Regions from separate parts of the Homo sapiens genome. Here regions 2, 3, 4 and 5 are each linked to region 1. Evidence: fine-mapped expression QTL. A gene starts in region 1. Each other region holds a variant in brackets. All regions are shown on one strand. Distances are from middle to middle. Region 1 holds the start of SPTLC3 (serine palmitoyltransferase long chain base subunit 3). Region 2 overlaps LINC01722 (long intergenic non-protein coding RNA 1722). Region 3 has its middle 13 kb from the start of LINC01722. Region 4 holds the start of LINC01722 (long intergenic non-protein coding RNA 1722). Region 5 overlaps SPTLC3 (serine palmitoyltransferase long chain base subunit 3).

Region 1 (5,108 bases):
TGGAAATGAATGGTCTCTACGATGAGAATTTTTCCAGATTGAACTCTTCGGGAAATTTAAGTACTTCCACGTAGACTTATTAGTAGATATTGACATGTCATTAGTCATTTGTAAAAAAATTTAATATATTGCAAATTTTTAAACATCAAAAAGCAAATAAAGCATTTTTATTCATTATTTGGCCAATCCAATGAAATCTCCCAAATAATAACAGATTCTGTTATTTCTTTTCTTGGTGGTTGATGGTTCTCAAGTCAACAGCTGAAGGAGAGGTGTCATGGTGTAAGGAAAACGGCACTCACTTAGACCCAGACATTCTTGAGTTCATGACCCACTTCTACCACATATTATTCTGTGGCTTTGGAAAAGTCACTTAACCTGTTGAAAATTTAGTTTTGCATGAGCATCACTCTCCATTACATGGGTAAAACTTGAGTCACTGAGAATGAACAGATTTCTGTACACTGTACAATTCTGACAGTTCATTCTGCTCATATCCTCCCATTTTTGCCAACTCTCTATCCCCAAGTTGTTCCAAGAGCGTTTTCACAACACATTGCCAAGCCTCTGTCCTTCCCTTTCTTGCCTATCCTCATTCTGTTATCTCCCTTTTTGGCTGCTTCATTAAGAGAGGAGCTGAGAATCTGGCATCTGGGCAAAACCATTACTTTGGAGAACACCACAAGGCCATTGCTAATTTTATCATCTTTGCCTTTAATGTACTAGTGGGAAGATTTATTTCTACCTTTAATAGTAAGATATCCTAAGTAGAAGGCATGTGGGTACTGCTGAGTCTTAGTTCTGTGAAGGTGGAGACTGTGTATGTTTTATTCCTTGTGAGAACCAAGGACTCAGCAAATACAGAGTACTTATTCAAACATTTTCTGAGGTTACTAGTTGATCCAAAATGTATTTAGTTGTTCAGAGATGCCAAATCTTGCTCAATATTTAGTCTGTGTTTTAGTATTGCTCCAAACCTTAAACCTAAACCTACCACTGACTTCAACAGAACTCTTCGCTTATTTTAACTGGAGATGGTATGAAGCAATGAGTCACCACTGACTATACATACCAGCAGTGCCTGATGCCAAATGGTTGGTGTGTTAATATAATTTTGTACACACAACAATGCACACATTCCAATACGGTAAGTAAAATAGAAAAGTTTCAAGAGTGAGAGCACGTAGTAGATATTTCTCAGAAATCTATGTGTGATTACCTAACCTTAGCAATTGCAATTAGGGGAAGGAAACGGAGAAAGCAGAATTCAGCTGTGTTTTAAGATTTATTTTATATATACCTTTTGTCCCTTGTAAAAAGAAAATTTGAAAAAGAAGAAGAAAAAGAAGAGGAGGGTGGGGGAGGAAAGGGAAAAGGACAAATGTGAAAAGAGGAAAGAGATGGAGAAGAAGAAAAGAAGAAAGAAAAGAGACATCTAATGTTAAAAAAGTTTTATTTCAAAATCTTTATTAAAAAAATGCTTTGCACTGAGCAATAGAGCTCAGGGAAAATAACGCCCTCTCTTCAACTTGTCTTTCTAAGTAACGTGAGGCAGTTGGGCCAACAATAGTGCTCCCCTCTACCTCTTCATCTCTCCATTTCCTAAATCTTAGAAGAAAATAAACCTACAAGAGTTTAGCCCCCAAATCTCAGTGAAACAGCCATGGAAGGGAGAGACCAGTGAAAATCTACTTCTACTTTGATGATAAAGGTTGAGAGAAATGCGATAAAATTTTTGAACTTGAGACACAAACTGGGCTGAACACACTTGGTATTAACTCCGTCTTTCACCTTGGCCTCAGGCCTTATCTTATTCCTCCAGCATTCCTTGGGATGGTAAAGGCAGGTACCCTCATATGCAAGTCATAGTTAGGAGAAGCGTTAGCATGTCCACCTCCAAAAGCTACATTAATCTGGAGTAGAACTGAACCCTGTCCAAGGGAGCTGAGTTACAGGACATGAGGCTCTGGAAACAGGGGCCATTTCTTTCTTTTTGTTTGTGTGTGTGTGTTTGATTGTTTGTTTTTGTCTACTGCCCCAATAAATTGGTTTCTTTTCTTAGAGTCTGATGCTAAAGAAGTCTCGACTCAGGAAAACCACAAGGGTGGACTTGGGAAGACTCAACAGGTTGTAATGACTCTCCAGCAAATCATGTCACCATGCCATTTGATGATGGTAGGAAGAAACAAAGCCTTGAAGATTCATGCATTGAGAGAATAAGAGTTAGTGAGTAAACCAGATGTGTTTCAGGACTGGGACCCTGCAGTCATCAACCACCTCACACCTGCGTCAGTAACAAACCCAAGCTACAGCATGATTTTTGTTCTACCTCAGCAGATATTTTATAGATGGAAAAACTGAGGCATAAAGTGGGTAAATACCTCCCCCAAGGTCACGAGATAAAGATAACGCAGTCATCAAATATTCTGTCTCCTCAACATCTGTCTTACTGGAATTCTTGATGGATTGGTACCCCCTTATTATAGTACTGATTTTAACATAGGTTGGTTTTGAATACTGGGTTTTTAAAAATCTTTTCAAATCATTTGTAAATTATGGAAATGTATACATCACATGAAACTTACCATTTTAATCATTTTTAAGTGCACAGTTTAGTTTAAGTACATTCACATTGTTGTGCACTGATCCATCACTATACCTTTTTCATCTGCTCCAGCTCAAACTCTGTACCCATTAAACAATAACTTCCCTTTGCCTCATCCCTCCAGGCCCTGGCAACCACCTCTGAATGCTATTTTATAGCAAAAAGAAATATTAACTTTTGAGCTTGGTTTACAACCAAAAACCACAATTACATGCAGGAGAGAGGGGGTGGGAAAAAGAGGTTAACTCAGAACTCAGTTACTTAGAAGACTCTGTGAGTGTGCTGTGTGTGTGTGTCTTTAAAAGACTCTCCACCTCCCAGCCCGCCTCCTCACACTTTGCCACTGGGTTGTTCAGTCCCCAGGTTCCCTCAGTCCCCAGAAGGAGCCAGCATGGACAATCTCCTTTACAGTTTCGGAAGCAGGTTTGTTGCCATGGAGTTCACATTTTGACGGGAGTTGAGAAGTATAAAGGTAACCATTTGTTTTAGTTTCAACGATCTGACAAAAAGATAGGCTGTTGCTCTTCTTCTGGAAAAGCCTGATTGGTAAGATTCCTTTAAGGGCTCAGCCCCAAAGAGCTTTATCCCATCCCCTCGCAGACTGAAAACTAAAGCCTGCAGAGACCTCTGAAGGAAAACCTGTCCCGGGCTCTGTCACTTCACACCCATGGCTAACCCTGGAGGTGGTGCTGTTTGCAACGGGAAACTTCACAATCACAAGAAACAGAGCAATGGCTCACAAAGCAGAAACTGCACAAAGAATGGAATAGTGAAGGAAGCCCAGGTAAGAGGCACTCTCCCCTACTCTTCTCTGAATTACCTGAACGTTTCAATATTTCTCTGTGAAGATATTTGAGGCTGTCCTAACTTAGAGTTCATCTTATGAAGGGTTTTTACATGTTTTGACTGTTGACTCTGTTAATAGAAAGTGCTTGGCTACCAAAAAGTTTAGGTGTGGATTAAGGAGAAAATGTCTTCTGTATGCAAAAGAGGATACACACAGACTCACACAGCTTCAGGCTCCCTAAAATACAAATGTACCTACTAGACTTTTGTCTCAAGCATTTTGCGGGGAGGGAAGAATTAAGAAAGTTCCAACTCTTTGCATATATTTTTGTCCAAGAGACCTGCTACAACCGTCATGCTTCAGAAGAAAAAGAGGAAGTGAAAGTACATTTTGCTGACATTATGTGGTGGAGATGGCATTCTTCCCAGGTCCATGAGAAATGCATCACTGTTTGAAAGGCGAGTTATTATTGGTGTGTAGTGGAGCATTGTTTTAGCTCACTACTTGATTTGAGGCCACAGTATTTCTTTGAAATGTGACGTCACAGACATTCTTTTCCAAAACACTTCAGAAAGCAGGGCTGATTGTGACACACTGCTCTCAGAAAACAGAACAGCATCTTTAAAACAAACTTGTATTTTCCAACTTGACACTTTTTTTTTTTTTCACTCTTATTGCACCGGGATGTTTGCAGAGTGTCCTAGGCAGGAGGAACTCGAGGAAAGTTGTCAGCTTGTTTTAAGAGAGAGCCTGGGTCTGTGAGGTCCTTATGTAAGGCAGTTCCCCACTCCCCACAGGACATCCCGTGTCACTCTGCTCTGAGCAGCAGAAGTGAGCTCATCTGCCTGAGGAGCAAGCCCAAGTAGTCAAACAGGTAGCCTCCTGTTTGGAAAGAGAAGTGGCACAGGGAGCCCCATGCAATCTTCCATCATTTGATCATCCAGAGAGCAAGTATCCACCCACAGGAAAGGCAGATTGTTCTAAGATCACAGGACAGGTGGGTCTGGCTGGGGCCAGTCCTCCTCTCAGTGAATTACATTCGTGTGTGCAATTGGAAGAGGCTAAAGGAGCTCTAGAGCCTGAGTTGTGTGTAAACAGGCTGTGGTCCCCAAAAGCATTCCCCTCTTAACAAAAGGCACTGTCCAACGCTGGGAGGTGTCTATCAGAAACCTCAGAACTGGCCTGTCCCACCTGAGGATCTGAAACCTGGAGCAATGTGAAGAGAAGGTGCTCAACTCCTGTCAGTTGTATGAAGGAAATTGCAGTAATATCCACCACTTATGCATCACTAAATATCAATTCAGGCCACTACTCAAGACGATCCTTGCCTCTGGAATGCCTGTAACTCACAAGCTATTCATCTACTTACCCTTGTGATTATTCTGACCCTGAGGGATCTCATCTGGGAAGAGATTCCTTCTTAACTTTTCTCCCTTTTATTTATTTTATCTTGGTTTTATAATCACATTCGAGGTATGAGATTAGAAACTTAGACAGTTATAACCACTCCTAAGTAAGGATAAAACCCAGGATTCTAAAGGTTCATTATGAAGTGCAGCTGCAAGACTGTAAATATCCTTGGACACTGAGGCTTCCCTAAGAACGGTCGAAAACATCAGGGCTGCTGTTGCCTTCCTGAAGGGCCATCCAGAGCCTCTTGTCTCAGACATATTTAGGTGTCACTAAGCTACAATTGGCTTTCATTGAGAGCCTCAA
Region 2 (5,108 bases), 78 kb before region 1:
GAAATCAATTTTTTGCAGAAAGAAGCATGCTGTCTATTGGGATGTCGCTGCCCCACGAACAGTCACTACACCCTTGATGCATCCTCTGCGGGGGGCTCAGGGCCTCAGGAACACTAAACACCACAGGGGACCAGGCTTCATCCTGACACACACTGGGAATCAACCCAGCTGTCATTTCCATGGGTGTGGAAGAAAACTAATGACTCAAGGCTTGAATCATAAGTGGTCCAGCTTCCACTGGCAGAGGTAGATAAGTCAGTGAGAAACTCAGATACATTCACAGCAACTGCAGCCTCTGACCGGAATGGGTCGAACCTGCAAGCCACCCTTGGCTTCAGCCTGCTTTTAGTTCACAACTTTGTGCAAAAGAGAAATTAGCAGCAATGTGAAATGTCACAATTTGAAGGAGTCTCTGCCAGGGCTGGACAGTTCAATTTCCTTTTCAACTCACTGCCCCAACATTGTCCTGCTACTTTCAAGGAGAGAAATTCAAGCATAAGGGCTTTGTGAACCAGGCTGAGAGCTCTGGACATGGAAGGAGAGGGAAGGGCCAGGTTCTCACTGGGACACATACTGTGGTGTGTAAAGGCATGGACCCTGGACCAGAATAGCCCAGGCCAATGCACTGCATCATTTCTCCTATTTCTGGGACTTCTGGCAAGCTCCCTGGACACTTCTGTAGCTCAGTCTTACCCTTAGTAAATAAGGCTAAGAGTAGCACCTGCCCCTGAGTTTTTATAAGGTTAAAATCACAAAAGATTCAGAAGAATGCATGGTATAGTGAGGGCTCAGTAAATGTTTATTATTTTTTATTATGATTTACCAGTTATTCTAATTTTGAGCAAGAGGGTTTCTCTGAGCTCTAATGAGGAGTCTCACCCTACCTCAAAGCAATGCAGGACAGAAAAGCCCCCAAATTGGGGCTTAGCCTGGTTCTTGGCTTCACCCAGGAAAGAACGTAAGGGTAAGCTGGTGGTGTTAGACAGCAACTTTATTGAAGCAGTAGCCTATAGCAACAGAGGCACTGCTCCTTGCAGAGGAGGGTTAACCCATAGACAGTGTGCCCACAGTGGCATCTTACAGCAACATCACCAGAAACAGACCTGTGGCTGAACAAGTTGTTTCTCACTCATTGAAATAAGGGAAAACACTGTGGAGAACTGTGGTGTCTCTCAGTAAGAGCATGTTAAAAAAGACAGTATAGGATGTGGGACTTTAGTTAGATTCCTGTCTTCATCAGCTCTGGCTGCTATATAACGAAGTACTGTAGCCTGGGTGGCTTATAAACAACGGCAATTTATTTCTCACATTTCTGAAGTCTGGGAAGTCTAAGATCACAATGCCACCATGGTTGGGGTCCAGGGAGGATCCTTTTTTGAGTTGCAGAATGCCAATTCCTTGCTGTTTCCTCACATGGCAGAAAGAGGGTGAGAGAGCTCTCTGGAGTCCCTATTATAAAAACACTGATCCTATTTATAAGAGTTCTACCTTCACTCCTCAAACACCTCCCTAGGCCCCAGCTCCTACCACAGTCACCTTGGGGGTTAGAATTTCAACATATGAATTTGGAGAAATGTAAACATTCAGTGCTTACCAGTGCTTTAGGGGATGTTTTACAGAATCGGACTTTTGCTCTGAAGTGGAGGCCATCAGGAAGTGGTGTTAACACTATGATTGAATACTTTAAAAATGTGATCTACAATTTGGAAGGAAGTAAGGTTAAAGCTGTGGTTGGTGAATAAGCCACTGTTACACATATTAGCTGGGAATGAGGAGTGTTTGGTCATTTGTGTAGTTTAGATAAGGTTCACGTTTCTGTCTGCATTCAGACATGACTGGAGTGGTCTTCTTTTTGTCTTGATTCACCACCATCACAGAGTGGCCTTTTCTGATGCTGGTACTCAGTGAAATTGTTTATACTCAGCCAGAGAATATTATGACCTAGCTGTGAGTGCCTGTTCTACTCCTAGCAACACCAAGAACTAACAGTGCTAGACCAGTTCTCAAATATGAAGGGTTGCGTCTCTGTTTCTTTCTACCCTCTTTTGGCCAAAGCAAACTAGTCAGGCATCAGGATGTAGATCATTGAT[C/A]CCTACCATTGCTGAGACATTGCTAATCTGATATTTATCCAGAGCGCACTGTCTGCAGGCAAATTAGGGTTTTAATTCACCATCTTGTATTAGTCAGGACATCTCTTTTCTTCTAAAGCATTTCAAAGTCATGAACTAACCTAAAAATCATACGTGCTATAACACCTTCTTTATCTCTGGGCAGCTGACATATCTGAGTGAGGGCAATTAAGTCAGCCCACTGGAATTATTCAATTTCTGAGAGAAGCTTGTATTGCAAGGCCAAATTTAAGTTTCTGATCACGTAAATGGCTTTATAATTTTTAGCTTTTCTTTTTCAGTATGAACCACATAAAATCAAAATAAAATCACATTTATCTTGGCTAGAAGGTTTGCATGATTGTGAATAGTTCCCAAAAGGCTGGAAATTATTGGGTCCTCTTTCATCAGATAAAAAATAAATCAATCAACAAAATAAAATACAAATTAAAATAAAAAAGATGATGCCTGGGTTCAGAGGGAAGCAGCAATGGATGTAGACCTTTGAAGGGTAAGGCGGTAATATTTCATAGATGTCACATGACTGTCAATAAAAGAATCTGTGTAAGATGAGAAATTGTTAAGTGTAGTAGAGATCCTAGAACTAAGTCAATGGAAGTTTTCATACATTTTGCTATTGCTGTTATAGATCTTAAACAAGGTCGATATAGCTTGGCTACTAGAGCTAACAAAAGACTAAAATAAGCAGTAGGTCCCTAATGATTCCCACATAATTGGGTCAACACTTACTGAGATTTTTTATAAACAAAAAGTAAAAAGGGATTTGTGAATCTAGAAACTTGGAGAAAATTCTTTTAATAGTTACTGTTTCTGTGTGTATGCTTAAAAAGGAACATACTTCTTTTAACTTGAAAAGTATATGATTACTAAAAGCTAATTCTAGTAATACTTTTTACTAATATAAAATTAACATCAGCTCTCTTCTGGATTTGACATGTTTGGAAAATCTTTTGTATGTTTTTAAATCCCAAAGTTGAAGGACTCTCATAACAGTTTTGAAGTATTTAAAACCTGAAGAGTTTCAACAAACCTAATTATTCCTATTTTCCTTTATTTTATAGGGTGAAAGAGCAAAATTATTCTGAATTTTGGAAGGGTAAAAAAAATCATTATAAAGGACATGATACAAAGTCAAATAATTTCAGGCAACATTATAAATATTTTGTAAGTAACTGTTCTAATTAAGAATCAATTAAGAAAACTAAACATGAAGTTTCTTGAAAACTGATTTAAGTGCGTACAAAAGGCACCAAAATTTAACAGAATAATTAAATCACAAAAAGAAACTTCTACAATCTAAGCATAAAATAGGCCAGTCATGTTACATAAAAATGACACTCATTTTTTTCTGTTTTACGTCATTTTTGTAATAATTTGGAGTAAAAATTGAATACATGTCTCTGCATGTATTCAGGCATGCAGAGACAAGTATAAAAATAAGTAATGTTAAAACTTTTACTCATAGCTTTAAAAAACAACTAACTTACCAGCATATTAAATAATACATACATATCATATTAACTTTGTCCCATGAATAAGCTATTAAACATTTCTTAAGCATAAAATTATATATTCATATTCATATTCATATTTCTCTAATTATCATACCTTGTGTAATTAAATATTTATATTAATTATCCTTATATTAAATTAAACAAATATATATTATAAAATGTAATATATAGTACTTCATATTATAAATATATAAAACATAATTATATTATAAATATATAAAATATATAATTTGTTATCAATATGCAATATGTGAATTACATTTATAATATATAATATAATATTTATATTACTTATCATCTCTAATCAAAATAACCAACTTCTTTTTGCAGACACACAAAAAGTTAGAGAATAAAAAAGGAATTGTTTTATTATTTTTCTCTAAGAACACATATTATTTTAACATTTCAAAGGGAGAACAACTTTTTGCTTCTTTCTTTTCACAGTTAACAGCTTAATTAAAATAAGATTTGCCTACTATAAAATGTGCCCACTGTAAGTGTACAATTCAAATTGACTAAATTTATAGTTGCACAAGCACCACCACAATCCTACCTTAGTACATTTTCATACTCCCCAAAAAAGGTCCTTCACATCCATTTGCAGTCAATCCTGTCTTCCATCCCCAGCTTTAGTTAGGCACAATCATCTGCTTTGTCTCTATAAACTTGTCTTTTCTAGACATTGCATATAAATGGAATTACACAATACATAGGCTATTTTCGTCTGGATTCTTTTACTTAGCACAGTGTTTTTAAGGTTCATTCATGTTCTAGTACATATATTAGTTGTGTGCTTTTAATTATAGAACAGTGTTCCATGGTATGGTATACCACATTTATTTAACCATTGGCCAATCGATGGGCATTTCAATTGTTTTCAGTTAGACCTATTAGGAATAACACTGCTAGAAACATTCACAGACATGTCTTTGTATCAACATGAGTTCATTTTTCTTAAATAGATTCCAAGAAGTGGAATTTCTGGGTTGCATGGTAAGTTTAACTTTTTAAGAAACTGCCAAACTTACTTCCAGTGGAGCTGCACCATTTTAAACTCATACCAGCAATGTGTGGGGATTCCAGTTTCTCTTCATCCTCACCAACACAAGCTACTGTCTTACTATAGCCATTGTAGTGGGTATTTAGTAGTATATCATTGTGGTTTTTATCTATTATATATGGACCTATGATCCACTTCAGTTAATTTTTTGTGCAGTATGAGACAAGAGTCTTACAGTTTTCGTTGCTCTATATACCTGAGCTTGTGGCAATACTAAGATGTCTTGATTACTGGAGCTACATGGCAAATTTTGATAACAAGTATGTAAGTCCTCCAACTTCATTCTTCTTTCCAAATATTCTTTTGAATATTTTAAGTTCTTTACATATCCATATAAATTTTAGCATCAACTTGTTCATTCTGACAAAAATGCCTCCTAAGATAATTACAGGATTGGTTTGAATT
Region 3 (5,108 bases), 43 kb before region 1:
CCAGCCCATGGAGGCTGTGGGAAATGCCGTTTTCCACTAACCAATATTAACACTTGAAGCACATAGGGACCTTAAAGTCCCACCAAATGGAAATTCCCACAGTGCGGGAAGTGGGCTTTATACCACAGGGACAGCTGATTCCCTCCTCATCAAAGAGACCCTCTGTGTTCAGCAGATTTCAGAGACTCTGGCATTTTTGTAAGGGAGTTATGCAAACATGCTTGACTAAGTAAAAGGGTAAGACCGGTTTTGCAAAGAAATAAAAAATCAGGCCATAAAATTTTAAGATATGCTCACAACAACAAAACTATATTTTAGTCACACACCCTATGGTTTTATGGGAAATGCCTTTCCCTACTGAAAACTTAGAGGTACTATCACCTCTATAAACTACTACCCCCTAATCCTCAAAGGGAGAATTTAAGAACTCTGAAAGTTCTGATCCTCTGTTGAATTTTATAGAAGAAGCTTTACAAGGCCATGAACCACCCCTTCTGATTCTCTAATTCTGGAGAAAACATCAACAGCAGCAACAAAAGATTCCTTCTTTTGTTTCTCAGTCCCACTGAGTTTGAAAAGGTCTCTGAGTTCTTCAAACATCAATCTGGATTACTTAGTGGACAAAATTTAAAAGATAAATAAATAAATAACTCTTCCTGGCATTTGAGTTATAAAGAGACACCCAGGTTTGGTGTCACTGTTATTGGTTAAATCCCCTCAGCTCAGGGAGGGAATGTATTCTCTTCCTCTTTCCTGAAACAAAGGAAACATATTTCATGTTGGATGCTTGGTTATGGAGGGATCAGTTTCCAAGTGATTTAGTGATTATAAGCCAGTCCTTATTCCCCCATGAAACTACTCGAAAGTTGACATTTGCCATGATATTCAAATGAAAGAGAAGAAAAAAAAGAGTAGCTCATTTAGAAAATGCATTTCCCTTTGTCTATGTCTTAATAAAGCCATTGTGTCTATTCTCCATTAGGAGATCTGTGTCTGAGCTCTCCTAAATTACCTGAGAGCTTAGACTGTAACACGTGACTCGAGAAGAGCCTCTTCCATTAAAGACTATGCCAACTAACAGAACTTCAGCTCATGTTGTATTCAGAAGTGAATGTCTGAAGTCATTATATATTTTAGTTTCAAAAAAATGATTTTGAGAGGCATACTATTATTCAAGAGTGTGTTTATCCTGTGATAAGTTTCTGGAAGCATCATTTGATACTTGTCTTCTTTTTACATGGAGTGGGAGGTTGAGGTCCAGAGATACATAAAAGAATAGGGAAGGTATGTGAAGTGCTGAAAACAAGGGAGAGAAAAAAACAGAGAGAGAATCAATGAGAAAGACAGCAATTGAACAGGTCTTAAAATGTCTCATTCCTCCCTAATAAATTAGCATATATAGGAAATCTCAGTTTTTTTAAGGAGCATGAAGGGTAGGGCATGAAGGGTGGATGGCTTAGCTTAGTCCATTTTCTGCTGTTGTAAAACAGTACCAGACTGGGTAATTTATAAAGAACAGAAGCTTATTTGGCTCATGGTTCCAGAGGCTGGGAAATCCAACATCTAGGGGCTACACAGTGAGGGCCTTTTTGCTGTATCACAGCATGGCAGAAGGCAATACATGGTAAGGGACAGAGAGAGAAAAGGGAGATCAGACTGAGATAACTAACCCACTCCTGCAATAGTAAGCATTCACCCATTCATAGGGGCAAAGTTTTCATGATCTAGTCACCTCCTAATGGTCCCACCTGTTAATTGCATCACAATGTCAATTAAATTTCAACAGGAGTTTTGGAGGGGACATTCAAACCATAGCAGTGGGAAGGAAGAGTTCTGAACCTAAGGAAGCCCACAAGTGAGGCAACAAATCCAACTTCAAGAGTCAAAAATTAAAGCTAATATTGCTGGTTGTTGTCTTAGTTTGACATCCCATAGAGGCAGACCCTGATGCAGGGATTTGAGGACAATTAGCATATCTCTGAGGCAAAGGAAACACAAGTAGGACAGTGAGGAAGTGAGACACAGAAGGGAAATCAACCATAATGATAATAAAATCCAGCCAGCACTGGAGTGACTGGGACTCAGTCCCATCAGAGAATTCTGGGAGTTAGTGCAGAACAGATGCCTCAAAGGTCTTCCCTCTCTGGGGGTAAGAGAGCTGGGATACTCATTGACTGCTGCTTCTAGGGGTATTCATTTTGACACTTTCAGCACTGTCCATGAGCAGGCTCAGCCAGGCTTGCTCACCAGAGAAAGCTCCCAGGCACAGTGATATAGGCATTGGCAGCTGGAATCTATGAGTATACACTGAAGTGAGGGGAGGGAGGGTGGATGAGCACCAGCAGTGTCAGCTACATTTGTGCAGGGCTAAATATAAAGAAAGGGTTCTGCAACTCCCACTTTGTATCATACCCACAAAGCAGCTGACTTCCATGTTGCACAAGCTATTTTATAGATACATCACTTCATGTGACAGATTATGAAGCACAATTAATCAGGGGCCAATTGAATTTTAATACTGCCTCCTTTAATGACCTAGCAGGGCACAAAAGCTCTAGAAATACAAAGCTGCAGAGGATGGACGTGTTCTGCCTTTCATTTCTCAAGACAGATTTGCAATGATCAAGAGGCGTCCTGTGAATGCAGTTTGCAAAGGACTTAGGCACACAGCATCT[CCT/C]TTGTTCTCACCACAAGGCTGCCGGGTGTGCAGATGTGAGGATTATTTCAATGGTGAAGAAGCATCCTGAGAGGTTACGTAGTTCAACTAATGTCACACCAAGAGGTATGGACTTGACCCACTTTCTTCTTTCTGTTTTCTTCTTCCCACCATACCTTGCTGCATTATAAGACTACTGCCAGTTCAGGGAAGATTTTAGCTAAAGTTAATTTAAGGCCTCCAAGAATATTTGAAACTATGTGCTATATCTAAAAATATATAAAAATGATGATAAAATATAAAGTTGTGTTTCAATTTCTGACACACTGGTAGTTATAATATACAGATACAATAATGACTAAATCTCTAATTTCTGTCATCTGAAGTTGATTCTAGAGCACTTACTACTTGGAGAGTATTAAATATAAAATGAGCCTGAACTCTTCCTTATGGCATCATTGCCACTGCATTTGGAGAGTCTTCTAGGTTCACAGATTTTTGACCCACTTTCTTTAGCAAAAGCTCAGGAAGTAAAGTCACACATTTACTCACATTGCACTCAAATGTGTGGAGAAAAGACAGCATCTTTATTTCTCTAAAATGGACTTTTGGCTTCTCATAAGTGCCATCTGCTGGGTTGTATGTGTATGTCCTTGTGAATGTACAAGTAGGTTCAGAGGCATTAGAATTCTCAAACCTTTTGGTTGAAGCCTAACATATTTAAAGGACTGTGCAAATGTCTTAAATATACATCTCCATGATTTTTCACAAAATAAAGACAGGGAGTCAGCTCTCAGAGCAAGAAATAGAACATCATCAGCACAGCAAAACCACCACGCCCCTGCCATCTCTGTTACTATATCTTAGAGTGGGAGTAATTGACATAATCCAGTCTAGTAACCTAGGTCTGATTTAATATCTTAATCATGCATAAACTATTCATTATGTAAAACACCCACTCTGTCAGACTGTGCCACTCTCTCCCTTCTCTGCCCTCAGCAGGAGAGCATCTGGGCATTTGGACATGGAAGGTGTGGGGCACAAGCATCTCATGGCCAGGGAACGGGGGAGGAGCATCTCAGAGCTGCATCAGAGTTCATGCTGGTCCTAGGACAAGAGTCAAGCACACCCTGCTTTCACCAGCTGCTGGTAGCTTTCACTCAGGTAATGCACAGCTGAACAGAACCCAGTTCTTTCTCTTGACTGGGCCCCCATCAATACATTAGCTCCGAATGATGCTGTGAACCTCTCTCAGTACAAGTTCCTAATCCTAACCCAGATGATTCCAAGATGGTGCTTCTTTCCCCACCATGATAACCTTTCTGCAACATCCTTGACCATTCTCACCATTATTTCTATTTCCCCTCTTTAAGAACATGTGGGTATATCTGGATCCCATTCATGTCATATGTGAACTAAGGATAGCTTGAGGACATTCAGTGTCAAGCCCTCTCGTCTTATGCCTTTATCACTGTGACATTTTCTCCTCCCAGGATCCCAAATGCGAAATAGGTCTTGAAAGGGATATCAGACACATGTCTGACCATGCGTCTCACCATTACATCAGTCTTTGGCCACTGTAGGAGCACCATTGCCCATCGCCATATTAAAAGTGGCCACCTGCAGAGTCTTCCTTCCTTAGAGTCTATGCAGAAGCCCAAGAAACAGGCTGCAGCCCCAGTAATCTGGGGCTACTCTATACCTCTCTGGATGAACTTAACCTGCCACATTCCTGGGGGTAAGAACTTCAAGAACTGACATGTTCACTCCCTCCAATATCTGCCTTCCTTCCTTTTCTGACTTTGGATATGTAAAGTGATGATCTTCAGGCTTGGCTCTCATCTTTATTGTATTATAGCCTATCCTATCCCACTGAGCTTTTCTTTCTTCCACTGCATATCCAACCACTCCTCTCTTAGTGGTCCTAGACAGGAGGGGTCTTCTTTGCTGTAGAAGAAAGCCTGTGATCTCAGCCTGTAGGTGCAACTCTTAGTCTGCTCAATGGGGCCTACAGGAACCTTAGAAAATCTTTTCTCTCATAATAGAGGCTGACTCTCAAGGTTCTTATTAAACAACAACAATTTTGCAAGTCATGTTGTTCTCTTTGGATTTCTGCTATAGCAATTCTAATGTCTCTTCATCCTCCCATCCCCTACTCTCCACTTCACCAATCTTCCCAAGGCAATGGATGCTTCAGGCTGACTATGGAGAAGGCAATATAGTTAAAAACAGAAAAGAGAAAAATGTGTCAATATGTCTCAAAATATTAATCCCAACATACACAAATAAAGTAGTAAGTTGCATGAAGAGTAATTTTAGCATTTCACCCAATATTCCTGCATTTATGCAGAACCATGCATTGTAACTAAAGAACTCTAATTTACTAGCTTCGGAAGCATTGAGTTAAGAAGATTTTTTTAAAAAGTCAGCAGACATTCATGTTTATATGATC
Region 4 (5,108 bases), 57 kb before region 1:
TGCACATGCCTGAGGACTTTTCAGACTCTGCTTACCTTCCACCAATCACCTGCTAACCCCAGTATCCACCCCATAAAACTTTTCTAAAAACTGCCTTGGAGCCAACACAGGAGACAGATGAGCTTGACTCCTGTCTTCTTGGTTGTTGAATTTCAGTGTAAGGCTTTTATTTTCTCAAAACCCATTGTCCTAGTATTGCCTTCTAGTGCATCAGGCAGTGAGCCCCTTTTGCTCCATAACACTGTTTCCTTCCTACGAGCAATGTCATTTACCCACATTGGGCTCTGCTGTCTTCAAAGGTTCTCCATTTGTACATTCACTTTCTGATTTTTCAAAGTTCCATGGCATCTGTTTCTTCTAATGGTTAAGAGTGGCCAGCAAGACACCTTGTCATGAAGATGTTTTGTACACCAGCCTGGGGGCCAGGGTAAATTCTGCCAAGACATCAGCCGTGTTTTTCAGGCTTCTCTCTGCAAGCCTCAAAGAATGTGCAAACCACAGCATGTTTGTGGTAGCCTCACATACTGATCCTACAGCACTTATGTCCTCCTCACTCTTCATTTTGAAGAAGGTTATCTTCAAAATGACCTTGCTGTGAAGCTCTGTTAGCTCTGATAGGGCGCATTTCTCATTGACATAGTGATTCAGAAAATGCAAGCAGCATATCAATGACTGTCATCTGGACTTCCATACCGATGGGACATATAGGGGAGGATTGACAGGTAGGCTAAAAATGCTGGGTAGAGAAGCTGGTGCCAGGAGAAATTTTTGGAAATTGAGTGGAGGATCTAAAATCCTTGCAGCCAGGAACTAAGAAAACTGGGGTTGGGACGTGGGGAGAGGGAAGCTGTAGACTATAGACTGTAGTCAGAGGCTGAGACTCAGGGCAGGATGCAGGTGAGAGTGGAGAGGCTTTCCTTAGGAGAGGACCATGGGAAATAAGTCTCCATGAAAGGGCCTTGGAGCAGGAGCCAGAACCCAATCATCACCATCCCTTCACCCCATCCCTTCAAGCCCAGCCCCTCTCTGCCGGGCTCACTCCCTGGTAACCTGGCTTTTATCAACCCCCTCTTCCTGGCTGGCCAATCCCCAGCTCCACTCCATGTGGGTCACAATCTGACCATTGTGACCTAATGCTCCCCCACCCCACTTGTGATTCCGTCACCGGAATTTCTTCTCAAGTGGTCTCTGATCCAGAGAGACACACCCAGCGGCAGCCGTTGACTCCCTCCACCCTTGCTTCCCTCTCAACCATCTCACCTCCATCTGTCCAGTGGAGCCAGATGTCCCACCTTCTTGGGAGAAATTAATTGAGGCTCATTTCCAGGACAGAGGGGCAAGCTGGGTCTGAGGAGCCAAGCAGAAAAACTTCCCAAAATCACTGGGTGGGGAGGGGTCAGAGACTTACTGCTGCCCCAGCTGTTCTGACTCTGCCCCCAGCTTTTGGCCCCACCCTTTTAAAGCACCTTCAGAGGTTCCCAATGGTGACAGTAAACAAGTCTCCACTGTCCTGGCCATCTCTGCTGTGTTCACCCTACTCCTGATCTTTCTGGCTGCTCAGGGACTGACAGCCAAGATGTGAGGCTGTGATGAGCAGGAACAGGGAGGCCTGGAGCCCCCAGGTGAGTGGAGTGGCTTGGCTTTAGGGAAGAGCAGCCTAGGTAAGTGGATATGGATGGAAGAGGCTCTGAAATTTGGGATCTGAACTTGGGGATCAAGGCAGCAGTTCTTTCTTTATAGGAACTTCCTATTAAAAAACATTTTTTTAATTTTTTTAATAAAAACAGGAAAGAGCCTTATAGGAAAGGGCTCAGTACTGTAGCCCAGGCTCTCAAAAATTATCAGTATAACTTAAGGTTTCTATGCCCAGTTACTTTTCCTATTTTAGTATAATAAAATAAAATATCTGACTCACTAGAGGAAATGCATAAAATGTGTACTCGAAGCACAAAGATAATTAATTAAAGAATCCCAGCATAGCCATCATTTGTCTTAAGAAACAGAGCAGTATTTACCTTAGCCTTCTTCTGTGGGCCCCCACCCCCTATATCAAAAAACCACCTCCTCGGTAGCCATTATGCTGAATTTTATGTTTATTTATCAATTGCTATTCTTTGTAGCTTGACTTCAACTTTCTGTACTCTTAAACAATATATTGAATAGATTTGCATGTCCATAAATTGTAAATATGGCTTTACAGTATATTATTCTCCGGGTCTTTTTTTGTGGTGCCGTATCTTGCTCCCACTGATGCACCTCCTGAATGTCTGTCATTCTCACCTATGTCTCTCCCTTTCTACCCTTCTTCTAGCCATTGTCATCACTTCCCTGATCTGCCTAAATTCTGCCCAGCAGTCCGTGAAAATGGTTTGCTGATGACATATGTAAGGACTTTAACTCCCCTCAAGCAATCTGCTCATCTCAAAGGGTAAAACATTGGCTCACTCCTAATGCAATAAATGACACATAAGGTCACAATTCAATGGTACTCTCCTTGGATACTGCTTCTTATGTGAACATCAAACTTACACTTGCTTCCTACACACTAACATATCTTGTATATTTGGAGTAAAAATTAGAGAAGTACATACAGGGATTTAAAATATAAAACATTTTTTTAGTTACCATTTCAATCTCGCTGCTTGTTATTGGTCTGTTCAGGGTATCTAATTCTTCCTGTTGTAAGATAGGAGGGTTATATCATTCCAAGGAGTTATCCACCTCCTCTAGGTTTTCTAGTTCATGCGCATGAAAGTGTTCATCGTAGCCTTGAATGATCTTTTGTATTTCTGTGGTGTCAGTTGTAATATCTCCCATTTCATTTCTGATTGAGTTTATTGGGATTTTCTGTCTTCTTGGTTAATTTTGCTAATGTTCAATCAGTTTTATTTATCTATTTTATTTATTAAGCTGGTTTCAAGAACAAGCTTTTTGTTTCATTTATCTTTTGTATTGTTTTTCGTTGTTATTTCAATTTCATTTAGTTCTGCACTGATCTTGTTTATTTCCTTTTTCTTGCTGGGTTTGGGTTTGGTTTGTTCTTGTTTCTCCAGTTCTTTGAGGTGTGAACTTAGGTTGTC[C/T]GTTTATGCTCTTTCAGATTTTTTGATGTTGGCATTTAGAGCTGTGAACTTTCCTCTTAGCACTGCCTTTGCTGTATTCCAGAGGTTTTGATAGGTTGTGTCACTATTTGCATTCAGTTTGAAGAATTCTTTAATTCCCATCTTGATTTCATACTTGACCCAGTGATCATTTAGGAGCAGGTTATTTAATTTCCATGTATTTTCATGGTTTTGAAGGTTCCTTTCGGAGTGGATTTCCAGTTTTATTCCACTGTGGTCTGATAGAGTACTTTATATAATTTCAATTCCCTTAAATTTACTGAGGCTCATTTTGTGGCCTATCATAAGGTCTATCTTAGAGAAAGTTCCATATGCTGATGATTATAATGTATATTCTGTAGTTGTTGGGTAGAATGTTCTGTAAATATCTGTTAAGTCCATTTGCTCTAGGGTATAGTTTAAATCCATTGTTTCTTTGCTAACTTTCTGTCTTGATGACCTGTCTAGTGTCGTCAGTGGAGTATTGAAGTCCCCCACTATTATTGTTTTGCTGTCTATTTCATTTGTTAGATCTAGTAGTAATTGTTTTATAAACTTGGGAGCTCCAGTATTAGGTGCATATATATTTAGGATTGTGATATTTTCCTGTTGAACAGGCCTTTTATCATTATATAATGTCTCCCTTTGTCTTTCTTAACTGCTGTTGCTTTAAAGTTTCTTTTGTCTGATATAAGAATAGCTACTCTTGCTCGCTTTTGGTCTCCATCTGCATGGAATCTCTTTTTCCACCCCTTTACCTTAAGTTAATGTGAGTCCTTAAGTGTTAGGTGAGTCTCTTTTTTTTTTAATTTTTAAATTATTATTATTATTATTATTATTATACTTTAAGTTTTAGGGTACATGTGCACAATGTGCAGGTTTGTTACATATGTATACATGTGCCATGCTGGTGTGCTGCACCCATTAACTCTTCATTTAGCATTAGGTATGTCTCCTAATGCTATCCCTCCCCCCTCCCCCCACCCCACAACAGTCCCCAGAGTGTGATGTTCCCCTTCCTGTGTCCATGTGTTCTCATTGTTCAATTCCCACCTATGAGTGAGAACATGTGGTGTTTGCTTTTTTGTCCTTGCAATACTTTACTGAGAATGATGATTTCCAATTTCATCCATGTCCCTACAAAGGACATGAACTCCTCGTTTTTTATGGCTGCATAGTATTCCATGGTGTATATGTGCCACATTTTCTTAATCCAGTCTATCATTGTTGGACATTTGGGTTGGTTCCAAGTCTTTGCTATTGTGAATAGTGCCTCAATAAACATACGTGTGCATGTGTCTTTATAGCAGCATGATTTATAGTCCTTTGGGTATATACCCAGTAATGGGATTGCTGGGTCAAATGGTATTTCTAGTTCTAGATCCCTGAGGAATTGCCACACTGACTTCCACAATGGTTGAACTAGTTTACAGTCCCACCAACAGTGTAAAAGTGTTCCTATTTCTCCACATCCTCTCCAGCACCTGTTGTTTCCTGACTTTTTAATGATTGCCATTCTAACTGGTGTGAGGTGGTATCTCATTGTGGTTTTGATTTGCATTTCTCTGATGAGGTGAGTCTCTTGAAGGCAGCAAATAGCTGGTGAATTCTTATCCATTCTGCAATTCTGTATCTTTTAAGTGGAGCATTTAGGCCATCTAAATTAAATATTAGTATTGAAATGTGAGATACTGTTCCATTCATAGTGCTATTTGTTGTACGTATATGCAATTCTCATCAAAATACCACCATCATTCTTCACAGAACTACAAAATCAATTCTAAAATTTATATGGAAGCAAAAAAGAGCCCGCATAACCAAAGCAAAAAGAACAAATCTGGAGGCATCACATTACCTGATTTCAAACTATACTATAAGGCCATAGTCACCAAAATATCATGGTACTGATATAAAGCTAGGCACATAGACCAATGGAACAGAACAGAGAACCCAGAAATAAACCCAAATACTTACAGCCAACTGATCTTTGACAAAGCAAAAAAAGACATA
Region 5 (5,108 bases), 160 kb after region 1:
AATTATACACGTACACATGTGCACACACACGCACACACACACAGAGTTGCCATGTCCTTCGTCTTCACCAGTATAGCCTCAAAACATAAACCATTGTATTGTACACAGTAGGTACACAGTACAAATTATTGAGTAGCATGTTAACAACTGAGCTAACCAGATTTTGAGATGAGTGAACTTTGTTTTCTTTACACCCTTCTATATTTCCCAGATTCTCTAAAATGAGTATGTATTTCCAGAATGTGAATTTTAACAAATTGTTTCTTTTAAATGAAATGAGTTGGTGTTAAGAAAAGACAGGCAAAACTTTCAAGAAGTCTGACTGTAGAAAGAAAAATAGGTTTAGAAAATACCCTTGAAAATGTAGAAGGCTTGAGCATGTTTACACATTAAGGGAAGAAGACAGTGAAGAGGGGACCTTGCACAGAAGGGAGAGAAGAGAGCATGGCCGGGAAGCAAGTTCCCTGAGATGGCAGGAGGGACACACAGCATGGATGAATTTGTAATTTTGTGCTCCAAGCAGCACTGAGGTATTCATGTATGTGATTCTCTTCACAACTTCTTAATTGCTGCAAAACACCTGCTTTGAAAGGATACTGAGACATCAGTCATCTAGACAAATGCCTCTAAACTGTTGAGATCATGTGCCCATCTCAACAGAAAATTTTGAGCAGTTCCTTAATGTACATGTAAGAGAAAATGGAAAATGACCCTGATGAACAGCCAGTACATTAAGGTAGCAATTGAACCTAAAGGCTCATAGACTAGAAATAATATTAGACAAATGCACTCTGCGACCACATTTGGACAAGACAGAGACAAGGCCACAATACTTAATGTCTCCCTCTTCTGACTGACATGTGTGACAGTTGCTCATTCACCAATAACAACTCTAGCCTCGCTTTCATTCTCTCGCCTTTCAGATAGAAATTATAAATATATAGCCAGCCAGTGAACTGCTCCCACTTCTTAACAGCATCCAACCCAGAACTGGTCCCTGCTTCCTTAGAGTCATCTCAGGCACAAGCTCAAATGCAGTGAGAAGCCACTCCCATCTTCCTGTCACTAAGATGCCCACGGTTCTTCTGCAGTGTCCTCCCTCTCCCATCTCAGCAAGCTAAAGAAACCTAACTCTGAGCACGAGTGTGTTCTGGGTGGTCTTGGATCAGCAGACATTAACATAAATTCTTTATAAATGATCTATGCAATACCAATATATTACGTACATTATATAAGAGACACACAAATAAAAGTTTAAAAGGTTGAGATAAAAATGAATAGAGGTCGGGCGCAGTGGCTCACGCCTATAATCCCAGCACTTTGGGAGGTTGAGGTGGGCGGATGACCTGAGGTCAGGAGTTCGAGACCAGCCTGGCCAACATGGTGAAACCCCATCTCTACTAAAAATACAAAAATTAGCCAGGCGTAGTAGCATGTGCCTGTAATCCCAGCTACTCGAACTGCTGAGGCAGGAGAATCACTTGAACCCGGGAGGCGGAGGTTGCAGTGAGCCGAGATCATGCCACTGCACTCCAGCCTGGGCAACAGAGTGAGACGCTGTCTCAAAAAAAAAAAAAAAAAAAAAAATAGAAATCCTAATGTTTTCCTCCTGCATCCTCCATAAATTATCTCACAGATGCCCCAAATGTGCAGATCCTTCACTTTGGATACCACTGAACTAGTCCATCCCCCACCTTCAGCAAAGATTGCTAGAAACTATCCCAGAGAGGTGTCATTTTAAAGATAACTTTGGTTACTTTTTCTTAGTACTGAGATTTGATGTAGGAAATTTAGAAAAACAGGGAAGAACATTTTAAATACTCATACTCCTACCACCAAGAAATCAATTACTGTTAACAAGTTGGAGGAAATCTTAATTAATGTCAGTTTGAAAGATTTCCCAAAGAGGAAAGTCCATAAGATCTATTAGTCACCCATTCTAACATTAACAACCCTCACCTTACCTTTTCAAAGCATTAGACCCTAATATTATCTTCCTCCTCATTTGGCAGGTTAAGAAAAACAGGCTCAGAAAGGTTAAAAAGGCATGACCAATACCACAGGATTGGTGATATACTAGAATTGAAAATGACCTTTTTTTTATTTTATTATTAATATACTTTAAGTTTTAGGGTACATGTGCACAACGTGCAGGTTTGTTACATATGTATACATGTGCCATGTTGGTGTGCTGCACCCATTAACTCGTCATTTAGCATTAGGTATATCTCCTAATGCTATCCCTCCCCACTCCCCCCATCCCACAACAGTCCCTGGTGTGTGATGTTCCCCTTCCTGTGTCCATGTGTTCTCAGAAAATGACCTTTTTTTACTTCCTGGATCTCATTTGTTTCATGTGCAAAATGGGGGATACATGTACCCACCTAAAGTAAGAGAGTTGAAACAGACAAGTTCTCAGTCCCTGTGAGTTAAGTTCTAGTATTTTCTGGGACACAGAGATGAGTATTTAAAAGCAGGAGGCCTGGGGTAGCATGAGAGGACAGAGGATGATGTTAATCAGCTCCCGCAACATTCCTCTTTGTTCTTGGCCAGGTGATTTGCTGTGTCATGAAGATATAACTTCAAATGCATTCTGCAACCTTATCTTTTTCTTCCACAAGACTACATATAAGTCACTACATTTTAAAATAAAACCTTTTAAGGGTAAGCATGGGTCACATGTTTTTATTCTTCTCTTCACACTCTCAAAATAAAATAAACATTCATAGTATGGAGTTAGACCACTAAATAAAATTAATTAGCATCTAACATTCCTCTAGGGTCTTAAACCACAACCTAATGGTACGGATCTTGCTTCTTTTCTTTAAAATCAAAGAAGCTAGCAAACTAAGACTGTGTGTCTTTGTGAGGCTTGCTATTAATCTGGGCTCTGCAAAGCAGGGCTACTTAGGTGTTCAATGATAGCTATTGGAAAGCAATCTCATTGCAGGTTTTAGAAGCTCTTGATGAAATGGGTGATCTCTTGCAACTGAAATATTCCCGGCACAAGAAGTCAGCACGTCCTGAGCTCTATGATGAGACGAGCTTTGAACTCGAAGATTAAGTTTCCTGGTCCTGAATGACACATAAAGACTTTGCGAGAAAGACCTCCCTCCTTGCCTCACAAGGAATATAAATGGATTTCTCCCCCTTCCTCAGGACAATTTTGGTTCCCAGACCAGCTTGA[T/C]TGAACTGAGGGAGACGTTGTTGTTTTTAATGTCTCCAGCTTGGACTGCAGAGACAAAAACATGATTCCAGATTTAAGTCTCTCTTCTTCCAAGTATTCTACTAGAAATACACACACACACACACACACACTTCTGAGAATATTTTTAATGGCAATAAGCCTGTGTTTTAGCTGCTACTGTGCAGACCCTTTCAGGGATTCCAACCAAATGCAAATGAGAGAATTTAAAATTTTTATTCAGTAAGTTCACTATGTGTTTACTTATTCCATCTGCAGATGTAAGTGAGTGTGGTGGACAGTAGCCACCTTCCTTGTTCCACTCATAAAAGCATCAGCTAGATCTCATCTGTATCATGGGAAGTTCCAGGCAGGAGGGTAAAGAAATGTTGTTTCTACCATTTGTCACATTTGGACGTTTTTCACAGACAAGTGTCAAAAGACATAGTTAATGTTTCGAGGGGGAAAGCAGAACTGATCAACTGCGACTAGAGACGTCTTTGAAGGAAATTTTCCTTTTCCTCTTGCTGGTCTCCTACAGTTTTACAGCTGAGCTTTTGAGGTTTGGAAAATTCAAGATGTTTGTTTCATAAGAAAAGGGGCAGAAAGCAAGCACAAGACACTTTTAGGTCTAGACTAAAATGGTAGTTACAACAATTTGAACCTTGTTGGTGCAGTGCACGGTGAATGCTTACCCTGCACAGCCTCTATTACCTTAAGGAATTAGTTGTCATTTTCCTATTGAATTTTGAGTAAATGGTGAAATTCAGTGTCCTTTAGAATCGACTCCCAAGACTATATTTGAAGAATGCATTGATTCAAGAAGGACATTTAAAAGCAAATTCTGACTTTTTCAAGACCAACACACTTGTTTAGGCCTATTAAATTGTACTATCACTTGTTACATGCCCTCTGAATTGGGAGAAAGTGGGCTTGCACACTTTGAGGTAACTAACTGTAATTTACTTGTGTTCTCTCTTTCTTGCTCTCCTTCTCAACATGAACACAAACCTCTATGGAAAAGTAGCCTCTTGTTAATCTGATCTAGTTTGTATGGAAAAAGCCCATGGAGAACCTTATCTTTAACAAGCTCCCAGAGGGTGCCCAGATTTGGAAATTCTAGAGAGCAGTGGTGACCTTTTAGCAAAGCTTCTGTAACAGTTCGAATGAGTTGCAGAACATTCCACTCCATCAAATGACACTGTAAACAAATCACTTCAAGAGAGGCTTGGTTTTGTGTGGCACAGATGGACCCAAGCTTTCATGCTGTGCACTGAGATAGAAACTCCACCCGCAGCGCCTGCGATGGATGGAGCAGTGTGCCCTGATGCTCAAAGCGTATTAAAGGAAAAAAAGTGATCAGCATGGAAAGTTTTTATGGGGAAATTATAACTCCAAGTGGGTGCATTGGTTTAAAAATGGATCACAATGATAGAGTTCTTCATGAATGTTTACAAGTTGTAAGGAATACCGTTAGTGAAAGAGGAAAAGAAGTGGGTTCTGAAAATGCAGTTTCCCATCCAATGATTTTGATAACAAAATTCCAACTTTTCTCAATGAAACTGATGCAGTATTATTTGTGCAAATAAAATGTGTCATAAATATGCAAAGAAAGGGAGACATACTGTTCTTATCTTGAATATGTGCATTTAAATGAATTGTCCAAAATGCATAAATGCCTTGCGTTCTATAAAGGAAACAGGAGGTCAAAAAGACAGCGAGATATCTAGTCCTTCCACAAGGTATGGAAAGCAATAAACATCTTCCTTTCTTTCTGGATCTGTCTGTGATGTTTACACACACCTTCACATCTACACTTCAAGTTTTAAGCCCCTAGACATGTGTCTTCATGAGCAGGAATGTCCACTATTATTACTTTCATGGAGGATATTGGGTCTAATTCATTGTGGGAAACTACTTACCT

The links. PIP is the estimated chance that this variant, and not a neighbour inherited with it, causes the effect.
Region 2: its variant is fine-mapped to the expression of SPTLC3 in whole blood (TOPMed, PIP above 0.99). The same link has a PIP of 0.9 or more in blood mononuclear cells.
Region 3: its variant is fine-mapped to the expression of SPTLC3 in CD4 T cells (BLUEPRINT, PIP 0.95).
Region 4: its variant is fine-mapped to the expression of SPTLC3 in whole blood (TOPMed, PIP above 0.99).
Region 5: its variant is fine-mapped to the expression of SPTLC3 in whole blood (TOPMed, PIP above 0.99).

The regions. Positions count from the first base shown.
Region 1 is chr20:13,005,996-13,011,103 of GRCh38, forward strand. SPTLC3 (serine palmitoyltransferase long chain base subunit 3) reads left to right here and starts at 2,977. Exons shown (of 12, transcript NM_018327.4): 1 at 2,977-3,389. The coding sequence starts at 3,273.
Region 2 is chr20:12,927,504-12,932,611 of GRCh38, forward strand. The region is part of intron 4 of LINC01722 (long intergenic non-protein coding RNA 1722); the gene reads right to left. Among named protein-coding and RNA genes, the nearest start is that of LINC01723, 20 kb to the right of the region's middle. The variant C/A (reference allele first, on the strand shown) is at 2,091.
Region 3 is chr20:12,963,391-12,968,498 of GRCh38, forward strand. No RefSeq gene overlaps it. Among named protein-coding and RNA genes, the nearest start is that of LINC01722, 13 kb to the left of the region's middle. RefSeq lists a silencer at 3,131-3,425. The variant CCT/C (reference allele first, on the strand shown) is at 2,676.
Region 4 is chr20:12,949,140-12,954,247 of GRCh38, forward strand. LINC01722 (long intergenic non-protein coding RNA 1722) reads right to left here and starts at 3,380. Exons shown (of 12, transcript NR_109868.1): 1 at 2,626-3,380; 2 at 1,261-1,347. LINC01723 (long intergenic non-protein coding RNA 1723) reads left to right here and starts at 1,201. Exons shown (of 2, transcript NR_109870.1): 1 at 1,201-1,622; 2 at 2,312-2,488. The variant C/T (reference allele first, on the strand shown) is at 3,081.
Region 5 is chr20:13,161,804-13,166,911 of GRCh38, forward strand. It overlaps SPTLC3 (serine palmitoyltransferase long chain base subunit 3), which reads left to right. Exons shown (of 12, transcript NM_018327.4): 12 at 2,951-5,108. The coding sequence ends at 3,064. It also overlaps a transcript of TASP1 not described here. Among named protein-coding and RNA genes, the nearest start is that of ISM1, 57 kb to the right of the region's middle. The variant T/C (reference allele first, on the strand shown) is at 3,188.